Linked DNA regions of Homo sapiens: regions 1, 3 and 4 are each reported to be linked to region 2. The links are microRNA targets in miRTarBase. Many come from high-throughput screens and were not tested one by one. Region 2 holds a microRNA gene; each other region holds the end of a gene's coding sequence. Distances are between the middles of the regions.
The links. The annotated mature microRNA hsa-miR-548az-3p reads AAAAACUGCAAUCACUUUUGC and lies in region 2 at 1,392-1,412, opposite strand. An mRNA with a match to its seed (bases 2 to 7 or 8) in the 3' UTR can be bound and repressed. Matches are read on the target gene's strand: a 7mer-m8 pairs with bases 2 to 8, a 7mer-A1 pairs with bases 2 to 7 and ends in A, and an 8mer does both.

Region 1 (3,000 bases), not on the chromosome of region 2:
AATACTGATAGAGGGCTTTCAAAATGTTTACTATATGTATCTTTTTTTTCTCTTTTAGCCAAATGATTTCTCAGTATCACTAAAAGCACAAGGGAAAAACAAGCATTTTAAAGTCCAACTAAAAGAGACTGTCTACTGCATTGGGCAGCGTAAATTCAGCACCATGGAAGAACTTGTAGAACATTACAAAAAGGCACCAATTTTTACAAGTGAACAAGGAGAAAAATTATATCTTGTCAAGCATTTATCATGATACTGCTGACCAGAAGTGACTGCTGTGTAGCTGTAATTTGTCATGTAATTGAAGACTGAGAAAATGTTGGGTCCAGTCGTGCTTGATTGGAAATTGTTGTTTCTAAATCTATATGAGAATTGACAATAAGTATTTTTATTATAACTCAGCCCATACATATATACTATGTATGCAGTGCATCTGCATAGAACAGTTCCTTATCCTTGGCCTTCTGTTTTATTGTTTTTTTCTTTGCTGTTTTCCCTTTGCTTCTAATATTACAGTTTTGTATTTTGTAAACAAAAATCAAATAATGCATATCAGAATCTTTATATGGAAGAAATCCTTTATTGCCTTTCCTTTGTTTCCTTGTAAAGGCACCCTGTTCTGTTATGGTTTTTCATTATATAAAATTATTATATCTATATATGACATATGCTAAAATTTCTTGGAGAGTGTTAATCTTTTCTGTGACTAAATAGCAATAATAAGTGGAAAATTAGAAATTATTTCCAGGTATTATATTTGTCACAGGCCATTGTAAATACCAAGTATATTGTGTCTGCCATAATTTTTAAAAATACATTCATTGTCTTCAGTCATACAGCAAGACACATGAGACATAGATTAGAAAACATGTTGTACAATTTTAATTTACAACTGTTGGAAATAAAAATCACTTAATTTTTTTCCAGTGCTTCTCCCTCATCTGGTTATTCAAGAAAACAAAACAGTCTCTGAGATATTTAGCTTTTCAAACTGTAAATAGATGCTCTAGTGTTATTTATTTTTTTAATCCCACTTGTATTATTTTACCTCTAGAGCATCTTGTATTAGGACATGTTATATTTATGCCAGTGGGAAATAAGTTATGGCCAAGTTTTGCAAAAACAGGAAGCAGTGAGATACTTGTTTTTTTCTCCTCACTAAATATCAGTAATTGTCAGGAATGGTATTACCTATTTTCATTTCCTCTTTTCAGCTTTAAGTTTTGTTGATTGGGACACTAAAACTGATGTATACCTGAGGAAAAAATAGAATGTGCTCATGGTTAGGGAAAATTATATTATTTTTAATTTTTTAATTTGTTTTTTAACCAAGTAGGAATTTGGGTGTATGGATAAGAGGCCAATCTGCTTCTGTAGGCTATAGAAGAAAACCAGTTGTATTTTATGGTCATAATTTGTCCCCCTATTATTCTGGAGATTTAAATTTAAGTAAAGTAGCCATCAGTATTTTAATTGAAAAATACTAAAGCCACATAACTGAGTAGGATGTCGTATGATACTTTCAACAAATTCCCTAATGCTGCCTAAGCATATGGATGTTTTAATTCTTTGCTGTTATAAATAGATATCTAATACGCCAGAATTACTGATGGTAAAATTGAAGTTGTGTAACTTGTGAATTTTTTTTATCAATGTTTTAAATATTATTTAAATCTTAAAATCATTTAAAGACTTATGTTGCCACTGGGTGGCAGCCATGGCTTCTCCCACTAAGCAACAGAAGTGACCAAATATAATTAAGACAAATTTTCATCTCTATTACATCTGCTTTTAAAACATTTTAGTTCATATTCTATTATTTTTCTAACTCAGTACTCCTTTGTTGAGGGTAATTATTAGTAGTTAAGTTTTTAATGGAAATAAAAATCATGTATGCTTATCTTTGCTGTAAAATCAAATGAATATAAATTGAGGAAAACTTTAAATTGTTGTAGGATGACTAGTAGTAAACATCATCTTAATTTTTAACATATATTTGATGATGCTTTCCTTTTCTCTGTATGTTTCTGGGTTTTCCCCCAGTCTTCCTTATGAAAAAAATGTATGTTTGTAAAAAGAGAACAATTAATGCTTTGCATCACAGACATAAACTATTCATAGTAAACTGCACTGAGCTGATATTAATAGAGCAGACTTTTGAGAAAGTAGGAGTGTAGTAGCACTGGAAACAGAATGCAAATTTCTGTTCCATAATTAGGTTTATTGTAGCTATAGCGCTCCCAGATAACCCATGTGTGCTAGTAATATCTATTGTGTGCTCTTACTATGGTATAAAAACCTCGCTGGAAGCTACTTATTTTGTACTTAAATATTTTACCAATTTTTAAAAAGTCTTAATCCAATGCTTATACCAGTGACTGTTTTTATAATACTTGAAGTAACTTTAAGAACTGAAACAACCCTGGAAAACTCTACATAGCTAGATAGTAACAATACTTGTATAAGAAACCAAGTTTCCTTATTCCCAGCCTGGTGTCTGTATCGTGACACACTACTCTGTGTATGCTTGGTTTTAGACTAGGAGGAGAGTCCTGGGAAGGGCAATATTACAGAAGTTTTCTTCCACATGAGGAGAATGCTTAGTTTCAAATTTAAATACATGTGTCAGATGGAACCCTGCCTAACTCACTTCTACAAATAACTTCCCCAAAATCTTAGAAGGTTTTTTAGAACATGATATAAGCTTTGTGACAAAAACAAATGCCATTGTGTCCCTTATTTAGTCATAAAACCTTAGGATTCAGCTGAATATATATTCACACATGTATATTACACATATATCACTATACAGTTAACACATGCACCTTGCACTATTAGTGACAAATAATACTGCTAAACAAAATAGGCTTCATGCAATCTATTGCCATTGCTAGAAGAATAAATAGGCCTAGCAGATGGGCAACTTGGGTTGTTAGAATAAGGTCATTCTTGCAGAATATGGCACTTAAATTATCTCCAGCTGTAATGTCCTACCATATA
Region 2 (3,246 bases):
GCTCTGCCTTATTTATCCTCTCTCAATCTTGTGTTGTTAGTTATCTTTGCTCTCTCTCCTGTACCTATAACCACACCATAAGGCATTTTTATAATCCCAAATTCCTTATTCTTTTGGCATGCATCGTGTCATGAATTCAGAGGGATTTGTTTCTTGCTACACTAATCTTCACAGAAAACCTTCCTTGAGTAGAATTAACTAGCACATCAGCTAGGCATATGGACTTTTTCTGGGCTTCCTTTTATTTTTCCCCCAGATGATTTTCATTAACACATTTCAGGCTACTGTAGATTGCTTAATATGTTAATTAAACACATTAACTTTCTTGTCAAGAATCTTGCTTTTTGATTACTTACTGTTGTGCAAGCATGCTACATTGCAGACCCTTCTAAAAAAGCCCATGAAACACTGTTGGGTAGGGTCCACGAAATTACACATTTTAGCTGAATGTCTAGCCAAGGGTTAAAGTCAATATTCAGCCTAAGTTGAAGTTGAAGATGAATATCACTTCATGGCATGAACTTCTGGGAAAAAAGAATAAATATTAAAATTTCCACATTTTATTTTAATTTTGTCATTAAAAATGCTCAAAGTCAAAGTGTATAATTTGACATTACTGTACAACACAATGATTTCCCAGCCTTCTCAGTGGAGGTCAATACACTAAACCTGTGTAATCCCAATACAGTAGACTCTCACTTTCAATTTAGATCAAAGGAGGAGCAAGCTATTCTGTTTTGAGCTCTGCCATTGTAAATATTGATGGTGAAATGGACCCTAAGATAAGATTTTCTGGGAAGAATTGCAACATATAAAGCATATATGGATATTAATTTTTACTCCAAGTCAATTTTGAATATATTTGAAAGTGAATGTTTAGGTAGTAATACTACACTTTGAATGATATGCAATCCTTCTAACTAATATTTTTATGGTGATAATAATTTTGGTTGTCTCATCCTTGATCATCAGCAAGTTTAGAGTTCCGGAGATGATAAGTAAGTCTTTCACTATTCTTCCAAAGAGCAAGCTTGAATCCCAAAACAAATTTTGTAAAATTTCCACGTCAAATCAAATTCTGGTACATTTGTGTTGTGGGTAATTTCTTATTGCATAGTATCCATACTCTCAACACCTTCAATATCATTTACTTTGTTGATCAGCATATGCAGTACCAAAGGAACTTAAAGTTGCCAAAGCACACAGGCCGAGTCTGTCTTCCATATTCTTATTATTGGTTAGTTGTTTTATATGAATGATTATAAGATGGCAGTTTTGATAGACCAGTCCCATGCTACACCACTGAAAGTGCTCTTGCCAGAGTCACCAATAATTTCTTTAACTGATCCTCAACTGACTTGATCTCTGTGCAGCAAATTTATTAGGTTGGTGCAAAAGTGATTGCAGTTTTTGCCATTAAAAGTAACAGCAAAAACCACAATCACTTTTGCACCAACCTAATACAATCTTGAATATTCCCTACTTTGTGAAATATTTTTCCCTATTATTATTACATTTTTTAAACTTTCTCTAATTACTCTGCTTTTTCCCAGTTTGTTTTGAATTTCCCTGCTTTCTGCTAATCTCTTGTATATGAATTTTCTTCCAGATTCTAGCCTAGATAGAATTTTTATTTTTTTGCTTCACGTAGCCTCTCTTTGAGGATTATATTTTTCATACTCACAAATTCAATTATATAATTTCAATCATGATTCTCAAATCTATATCTTCAGCCAAGATATTTCTCCAGAGCTTCAGATCTAATTTGTTAGTCACCTAGTAGATATCACCACATAAAATCCTATAAATATCCCCCTTTAGTGTCCTTTTTATCAGTGAAATTACCACCATCTACCTAATTATAAAAGCCAAATACCCAATAATTTTCCATGACTTGCCCTTTTCTCATTTACTTTTTATATGTAATCAGTTATCAAGCCTTGTGTTTCTATTTGATAAAATGGCTCTCCTTTTATTTTTTGCTTACCTTCATCTTTTGTTATTATCATAGTTCAGGCAATCATCTTTTGTCTTTAGTCTCAAAACACCTTCCTTTCTGGTCTTCCGTATTTTGAATTCATTACTTCCAAAAATGTTTCTATTGGAGCCAGAGGGATGGTTCCAAAAATCCAGTCAGATCATAGCATTATCCTGATTAAATATCATCCCCCATTACATTTAGAATAATACTTTGGGGGTTATTTATAAACTGCCTTCATTTAGCCACTCAATCCCATCTTTTTTCCTTCTCTCTTGTTTTCTCTGCTCCAAACATTCTGAAATTTTCTTTCTTTCTCTGAATAAATCATGATTATTCTTACCTCTAGGCCTTTGCACAAATAAAAGTTTTGATGAAGAAGTTTCAAGTTAATGGTTTGTGAATGTAAGACAATTCTATTTTTTTTTTCAATAACTGTTGCCAGGTTTGCTTTGTTGAATTCCTTCCCTGCTGGGCAACAAGAAACAGTGATATCTCAGTTTGACAAATAACTTTTTATTTACTTCTGATTAAAAATAGTCTTAATTTGGGGTAGTAAAACTTTCCTTTTTTAAAAGCTTGTGCAGGGCTTCTGTATAGTATACGTATTGAACAGGGTTTATGTGTCGATATGGATAGGGTTGGATGTGTTGTTGGCTTTCTCCCTCTCTTTATCTTTTTCCCAGTGCCTGTTGTATTGATGATGATGTAAAGGGGTGTGTGCATGTTGTGGGTGGGGGGGTGTGAATGTGTGTACGTGTGTGCATGTGTGGATGTCTATGTAGTATGAAGGGGGAGATGGTAGAGGAGTGGGATGTCTTTGCTTATGCTGTATTAGTGATAGTGAGGTGTTATGGTTGAATCACCTAATACACACTGTTTCCTTATGTCTGGTGTTGTTACTTGGTCTACACTGAGAGAAGTCAGATGCCAGGTTTAGAGTTATAATAAGATTGATCTGATTTTTGGAAATATCCTTCTGGCTAAGTTGAAACCCATTAGGAGTAATCAATTAGAAATATAGGCAGTCTTCTAAGGCTGACAAAAACAATAAATTGGGGAAGGACTCCGTATTCAATAAATGGTGCTAGGATAACTGTCTAATCATATGCAGAAGAATGAAACTGGACCCTTTCATCATATACACAAATCAGCTACAAATGGGTTAAAGATTTTAATGTAAGACCTCAAACTATAAAAATCCCAGAAGAAAACCTAGGGAATACCCTCTTGACATCAGCCTTGGCAAAGAATTTATGGCCAAGTCC
Region 3 (3,246 bases), 14 Mb from region 2:
TCCCAGATGGGATCCTGGACAGAGAGAGGACATTAGGGGAACCCCAGTGAATTCTCAATATGGTCCAGGGCTTAGTTAACAGCAACGTCCAACTGATCTCCCGGTTGTGACAAGTATGCAGTAACGTCAGATATTAGTGACAGGGGTCACTAAGTACAGGCTATATGGCAACTCTCTGTATTGTTTGCAACTGTCTGTATATTTTAAACTAATCTTAGTTTAAATAAGAGGTTACACTAAAATCTCTTTTTTTTAATGTAGAGTAGAAAACAAGCATTACAATGGTTGTCACTGGGCATGAGAAAAGGAATGATCTTTCCACATACATTTGTTTGTAATCCAAACAAAATGTAGCCTGGGTACGGTGACTCATGCCTGTAATCCCAGCACTCTGGGAGGCCTAGGTGGACGGATCACTTGAGGTCAGGAGTTCGAGACCAGCCTGGCCATGGCAAAAACCCCATCTCTACTAAAAATAAAAATAAAAATAAATTATCTGGGCATGGTGGCGCATGCCTGTAATCCCAGCTACTCAGCAGGCTAAGGCACGAGAACTGCTTGAACCTGGGAGGCGGAGGTTGCAATTAGCGAAGATTGTGCCACTGCACTTGAGCCTGGGTGACAAAGTGAGACTACGTTTCAAAAAATAAAAATAAATATTAAAAATAAAAAAGCTGTTTTCCTCGAATTATAGGTTGGAAAGTTTTTTATCCTCATCATTGTGCTGCCCAAGCTACTGGGCAATTGAAATGCAGCTGGTCTGAATGCATTGCGAGTGTGAAACACACTAGAGTTCCTAGAATGAAAAAAGAATGCAAAATACCTGGTCAATAGTTTTTATAGAAGTGGTAATATTTTAGACGTCTTGAGATAAATGAAATGTATTATTAAAATTAATTTCATCTGTTTCTTTCCACTTTTGAAAATGTGGCCACTGGGAAATTAGAATTAACATATGAGCTGACTTAAATTTCTGCTGGACGTGATGCTCCGAGGAAAGAATTCCAGAGATGAGGGGCTGGGGTCCCCTAGGTGTCAAGGACGGGCAACCCCCCAGTGAAACAGCCATCCCTGCACTGCAATGTTTCACACACACAATCTCTCAGGGACAGAAAAAAGACACAAGCCGCTGCAAAGTTACAAATTTATTGGTCTGGAAATAAATACAAATATCTCATTAAGAAACTCCTCTGGAAAGACTTGTGCACAATAGTTTCCCATCCGTACTCAGCCTCTCTTGCCCCGATCCCCGACTTTTCTACTCAAGGCCAGGGAAGGCCTCCAAGGTGATGGGCGGCAGGTAACGAGTCATTGCCTCTCACGCCACCTGGAAGGCTGGACTACTTCCTCCTCCCAACTGCGGGGTCCCAGAAATCCTCGGGTCCCAGTGGCTGACTTACAATATTCAATTCACTCTGACCAAACTTCCTATGAGAAAATCCACGGTGAGCCAAAATGAAAAGTACAAGGCAGTAGTACAGGAACCTGGCAGCCGCACTGGCCGCCCAGAAACGTCAGTGGTGCTGCCCCATTCGGCGAAAGGTTAGGGAGCAGGAAAAGAGGAAGCAGGAGAGGGAAGGAAAGTCCCATGGAATATGTATTCCAGAATCCTTACATTTTCTCAGCCACCGCTCCCCACGTGAGTTCCCACCCCCACCCCGACAAGAGCAAAGAGTTCTGAGGATCCAAGAACGTGACCGGGTCAGACAGGTTCAGCTACTGAGTTCACGTTCCAGCCCAGCTGTCGAAGATTGAAAACTGGATTTAAGCCAATCACACAAAATTCCTGGAACCAAGCTGGGATCCACAGAAATCACAACTGCACTGGATCTCAACACAACAACAAGGAATCCCTTACATCGAGTAACCCCAATTCCACCCCCACCCCAGTGCTCCTACTCCGGCCCCTGCAAGGACACTCATCACAGCCAGGGCAGCTGTGGAATGTTGCCCTCCATTCTAAGGAATGCAAAACAAATCTAAATGATCTTCTCCCTGAACAAGAATAATCACTGGCTCATGTATCAGGGGTGGGAGGTTGGGGCTGTGGAGGAGAGGCAGAAAGCAGAACTAAAGCCTTCAAAAACCATGATGCCCAACGTTTGCTGAAATATTTTTGTCTGTAAAGCCAGGAGATTTTGTCGCCTGCTTTTGCTGCACATTAAGAGGATGCTAGAAAAATCAAGCTTGTTTGCTTCTGCATTCAAAGCTTTCTAGATGCACCAACTTTAAAAATCGGTTTCTTCAAGTTAACTACGTAGATTTGTTGTTCCAAATGCCTCTAGCCTCGACATGAATCCCACCTTTTCCCCCTTCCTGTTTTGCCTGTTTAAAAGAGGTGCCTGCATGTCACTATTACCCCCCTCCCCAAATGAGAAAAGGATTTTGTTTCCGGAAACTGGATCAGCTTCTCCTCAGTTAAAGAGGAAACGGGAAGTGGGCGGCTGGCCTTCTGACCAGGCACCCGTTTGAACCAGGATGCTCAGGGCGGCCTAGGCTTGGCTTTGTGAAGTGTGTGCTGCTACGCGTCTTGTTTTTGGCAGTTTGGTGTCTCTGAGGGAGGGGAGGAGAGTGGCAACCGGCCACTGGTTAATGGAAGAGGATGCGATGCGGAGATGCTTGCTTCCTTCCTTTGGTCCACCGCCACCCCGCCTTTGGAGAGGGCACCCACGTAATAGACCTCATTTGTCTCCACCAGAGCTCACTCTTACAAAATAAGCTTTGGATTAATACCGAGTTAGGCGCAGTATGGCAGGCAGGGGGCGAAAAGGGGCCGGGGAGGAGGGGGCCACTACAGAGATCAGAGTCCGGGGGCGGCAGCTGGGCAGGCCGCCTAGCAGGAGACCTCCATGGACTTGGGCCCGGCGCTGTTCCCAGCAGCACCCGAGTTGGGGGTGATGTCCAGGTGGGCCCCCTCGCTGGTGTGCGAGCGGCTGCGGGTGCCCTCGCTGGTGTGGGAGCGGCTTCGGGTGCCCTCGCTGGTGTGGGAGCGGCTGCGGGTGCCATCCAGAGAAGTGACGCTGGAACCAGAGGCTGTGCGGGACCGCATCAGGCGGGTCATGCTAGCCGAGGGCACTAGGGGAACAAGAGACAGCCGGTTAGAGGGCAGGAGACTGCCAGGTGAGGAGCCAGGCATGCCCGTCCACCAGCCACATGCTCTTCTACGTGCCAGCCCCAGAGAAGACTTGATCCCTGCAGCCATCCAGCTGCTGGGCCCCCGTCCTCTCCATGTCCACTCGGAGAGAG
Region 4 (3,246 bases), not on the chromosome of region 2:
GAATTCATCGCTGCAATTGCTAAAGGTGAGGACAAAGCAAAAGCTGCTCCCCTGGCTCGGTGCCCTCTGGCAGGGCTGCAGGTCAAGGGAGCTCAACAGGGCCCATGACCTGCGGTCTTACAGCCAAAACCGTGCACTCTGGAAGGTGCATGCTGTTGGCATCCAGAGGGCCGAGTGAGCAGCCCGGGGGTGTCCAGGTTAGGGTGGGTCCCCAGGGAGAGGGAGAGAAGAGAAAGAGCCCTGTAACTCCTGACTCCCAAGTGTGCCCCGGCCCCACCTAGCCACCCCGCCTGCCTACCTGTCAGTGCCCCCTAAGTGACTCGACTGGGAATAAGGGCAGGTTTGTTGTCCTGGTTCAACATTTGCTGTGTAACTATTGTTTTCTGGTCTTTAACCCAGACTGCAACACAGCTTCCTGGAGGTCAGGGGACAGCTCTTACACTGGACTCCAGTAGAGGACGTCAGTCACAGTGTTGGTTTTGGAGTCATGTGGTCCAGTGGTAGACCAGGAATCAGGAGACTCTGGGCTTTCCATCTCACTCCAACCGTATTTTCAAGTGATGAGCCTCTTGCCTTCTGTGAGCTTCCTGCAAGTGGGCTTAGCTTACATACTTTGCATCATCTGAAGGCACGACAAGAGAACATTGAAGAAAGAAGTCATAGGATCCTGTTTATTGTAGACAGGGGTCCGCGCACAAAAATCAGGATTTGGAGACAGAGGGAGCACTCAGGAGGCATGGTTTGGGGAAACTGAGTCAGGAGTTAATGACATATATTGAATCTTTTTGGTCTCCTGAAAACTCTTATGCTGTGTATGTAAGTCACCTCCTCTAGGCTGTCCCCCAGGCTTGCAGGGCCTGCTGGCAAATGGTCCTATGTGAGACTGCTTGCCAGGTGGCTGATGCTGTGCAGGAGGGGAGGGAATTTGGAGATGGCCAGTGTCTTTGCCTGCCGAGGGAGTGGAGACTACTGAAAGCCCGTAATAGGACAGTGGGGCACAAGGCATGCATTTTAACAAAGTTTATCCTGGTGGCCTCTTTCAGGGGTCCAAGGAGCTGCCCAAAGGCCCCCAAGGGGCGGGGAAATGGAGACCAGGTGGCTTGCACTTTGGACTCCCTCCCCAGCTTCAGGTGGGCTGCCTTGGGCTCTGTCTCCTTTAGACATGGGACTCTGAGTCAAGTACATGTCAAGAACGTGTTCCGCAGTGAAAAGGAGAAACAAGTTTGAACGCCACTGATTTAAACTAATACAGCAGATAGCATTTAATTCCAGTAAGTGGTTTTTCCCCTTCGGTGGTTTTGATATTCTAACAAGCCAACGTGTCTGGAGCTAAGACTCTCAGCTCCTTAATGGGGAAGGAAATCCTGGCAATTTCTCAGCCCCGCTGGACGCTCCTAGCTTGACCTCAGTTTCCTCACCTGTAAAATTGGGGTGATCTCAGCTTCACCTTCCATATGAAGCCATTGTAAGGAGCAGAGGAAGTGAGGAAAAGAGGCAAGTTTTCCAGTTGAGGAGACTGGAGGGGTGGAGTGTGACATAAGAACAAGCCTGCCCGCTGGGGTGTGGTAGGGGTGAAGCCAATTTCACAGCCTGGGCCCAAGAAAGAAACTACAACTTGAAGATAATAGTATTTACACAGATTGAATCTGTGATATAAAGTTTATGGTTCGTTTGGACTGTTCTGGAATATCCAATAAACACTGGGAGTAGAGGAGAGCAGGTGAGGGTTCAAGGCAGAGCTGGGGACCAAACCACCCACCTCTCTTCTCGGGCAGCCCATGGTGTTGGCATGATGTCCGGGATACAGAAGGCGCTCAATTAATGCTTGCTCAACCCAGATCCTGTCCCCTTTTCCTTCTCACTTGTCTTCCTCTGCTCCCCCGCGGGGATGACAGTTGAGAAAACTGTTGCTTTGAAGAGTTAAAAGGCAAAATCCTATGAAACTGTCCACAATGTAATTTTTGTGGAAGCCTGAGACCCCTCCAGATCCAAACTGTCAAAAAGCATGCATTAAACCCTCCCAGTCCTGCCACATAAGCCTCACCATCTAAAGGTTTGTAGAATTGTTAAAGGATGCCAACTAGTGGCTTCAGCAAATTCAGAAAACCCCAACCATGGTTCCCTGCCTCATTCCTCCCCATCTGCTCCCTCCTTCTCCCTGGGACCAGGCAATGCACCCCCTCTTCAAGTGTGATTCTGAACGTCCCCACCTTCTTGGGGAGGGGGCAGGATTTAAATCACAAGATATTTAATCAGAGTTCTCTCCTCTTGGTAGCTCAAATAAGAAAAACCAAGCAAAGCAAATCCATCTTTTCTATAAAACTTCATTTTGTAATTTTTTTCCAAGAAGTAGTAAGGGGGAAATATTGCAATTATGTAAAGGTAAGGAACAATGGTGTATAAAAATAATTTAAGCACAATATTAATAACAAAGCAACTTTTTTTCAAGGAAAACTAGTAGGTCATCTTGCCCAAGATTTTTCCAAAGGTATTAAATATATTTTCAATAACAGTACATACAAATACACATACACAAATATACCACACAGACACATGTGCACATACATGCACACACACACACACACACACACACACACACACACATATATATATACAGCTCAAGTATTTTTTTGGTGTGCATTCTAGCTAATCCACATAGCTAAAGTGAAAAAACACTGAAAAGATCAATGCCTGAGTAACCTTAAATTTGAACAAACTATGCATTGGATGTGAATTTTTGGAGGCATGCTAAGATTTCCCTTCTCAATTTCATTAGCTACTACCCAGTGTTCTGTGGTTCTTATCCTTAAAAAAATCAAAGTGTGCCTTTCAGATCTGCTCACGGTGTGGTGATGATTATTATGGTGGCGTCAATTTGGGAACACTTGCCCTCTCTTGCTCCTACTGCACCTTATGGATGGGAAAGGGAATGATTTTAAAGGTAAAGCACTCAGGCCCTGATTACATCTGGCTTATTCTTTGCTTCAAGGCAAGGATCTCTCTCTCGATTTCACAGGGGAGGTCGGCATTGACTTGATCCTCCAGATACTTCTCGATGTCTTCCACCTCCTTCTCCCAGAATTCCTTGGAGATGCTGAAAAGCTCCATCATGTTGATGTGCCCCAGGCCTTTCAGGTTCAGGGCATCCTCCTTGGGGATGTAGCCTATGGGCGTGAGCTTGGTGCTGGCTTTTCCATCGATCCGGTTGAACATCCACTCCAGCACCCTGGAGTTCTCTCCAAAGCC

Region 1: the mRNA of NCK1 is a reported target of hsa-miR-548az-3p. Seed matches in the 3' UTR shown: 7mer-m8 at 514-520.
Region 3: miRTarBase lists NDRG1 as a target of hsa-miR-548az-3p. Seed matches in the 3' UTR shown: 7mer-m8 at 1,755-1,761.
Region 4: miRTarBase lists PCK1 as a target of hsa-miR-548az-3p. Seed matches in the 3' UTR shown: 7mer-A1 at 2,318-2,324 and 7mer-m8 at 1,901-1,907.

The regions. Positions count from the first base shown.
Region 1 is chr3:136,948,201-136,951,200 of GRCh38, forward strand. It overlaps NCK1 (NCK adaptor protein 1), which reads left to right. Exons shown (of 4, transcript NM_001291999.2): 4 at 59-3,000. The coding sequence ends at 253. The region is part of intron 3 of IL20RB-AS1 (IL20RB antisense RNA 1); the gene reads right to left. Among named protein-coding and RNA genes, the nearest start is that of IL20RB, 8.3 kb to the right of the region's middle.
Region 2 is chr8:119,323,394-119,326,639 of GRCh38, reverse strand. It overlaps MIR548AZ (microRNA 548az), which reads right to left and starts at 1,469; the gene lies at 1,375-1,469.
Region 3 is chr8:133,236,045-133,239,290 of GRCh38, forward strand. NDRG1 (N-myc downstream regulated 1) reads right to left here. Exons shown (of 16, transcript NM_006096.4): 16 at 1,131-3,075. The coding sequence ends at 2,834. Among named protein-coding and RNA genes, the nearest start is that of CCN4, 47 kb to the left of the region's middle.
Region 4 is chr20:57,565,520-57,568,765 of GRCh38, reverse strand. PCK1 (phosphoenolpyruvate carboxykinase 1) reads right to left here. Exons shown (of 10, transcript NM_002591.4): 10 at 645-3,246. The coding sequence ends at 2,962. Among named protein-coding and RNA genes, the nearest start is that of PCK1, 6.0 kb to the right of the region's middle. RefSeq lists an enhancer at 1-79.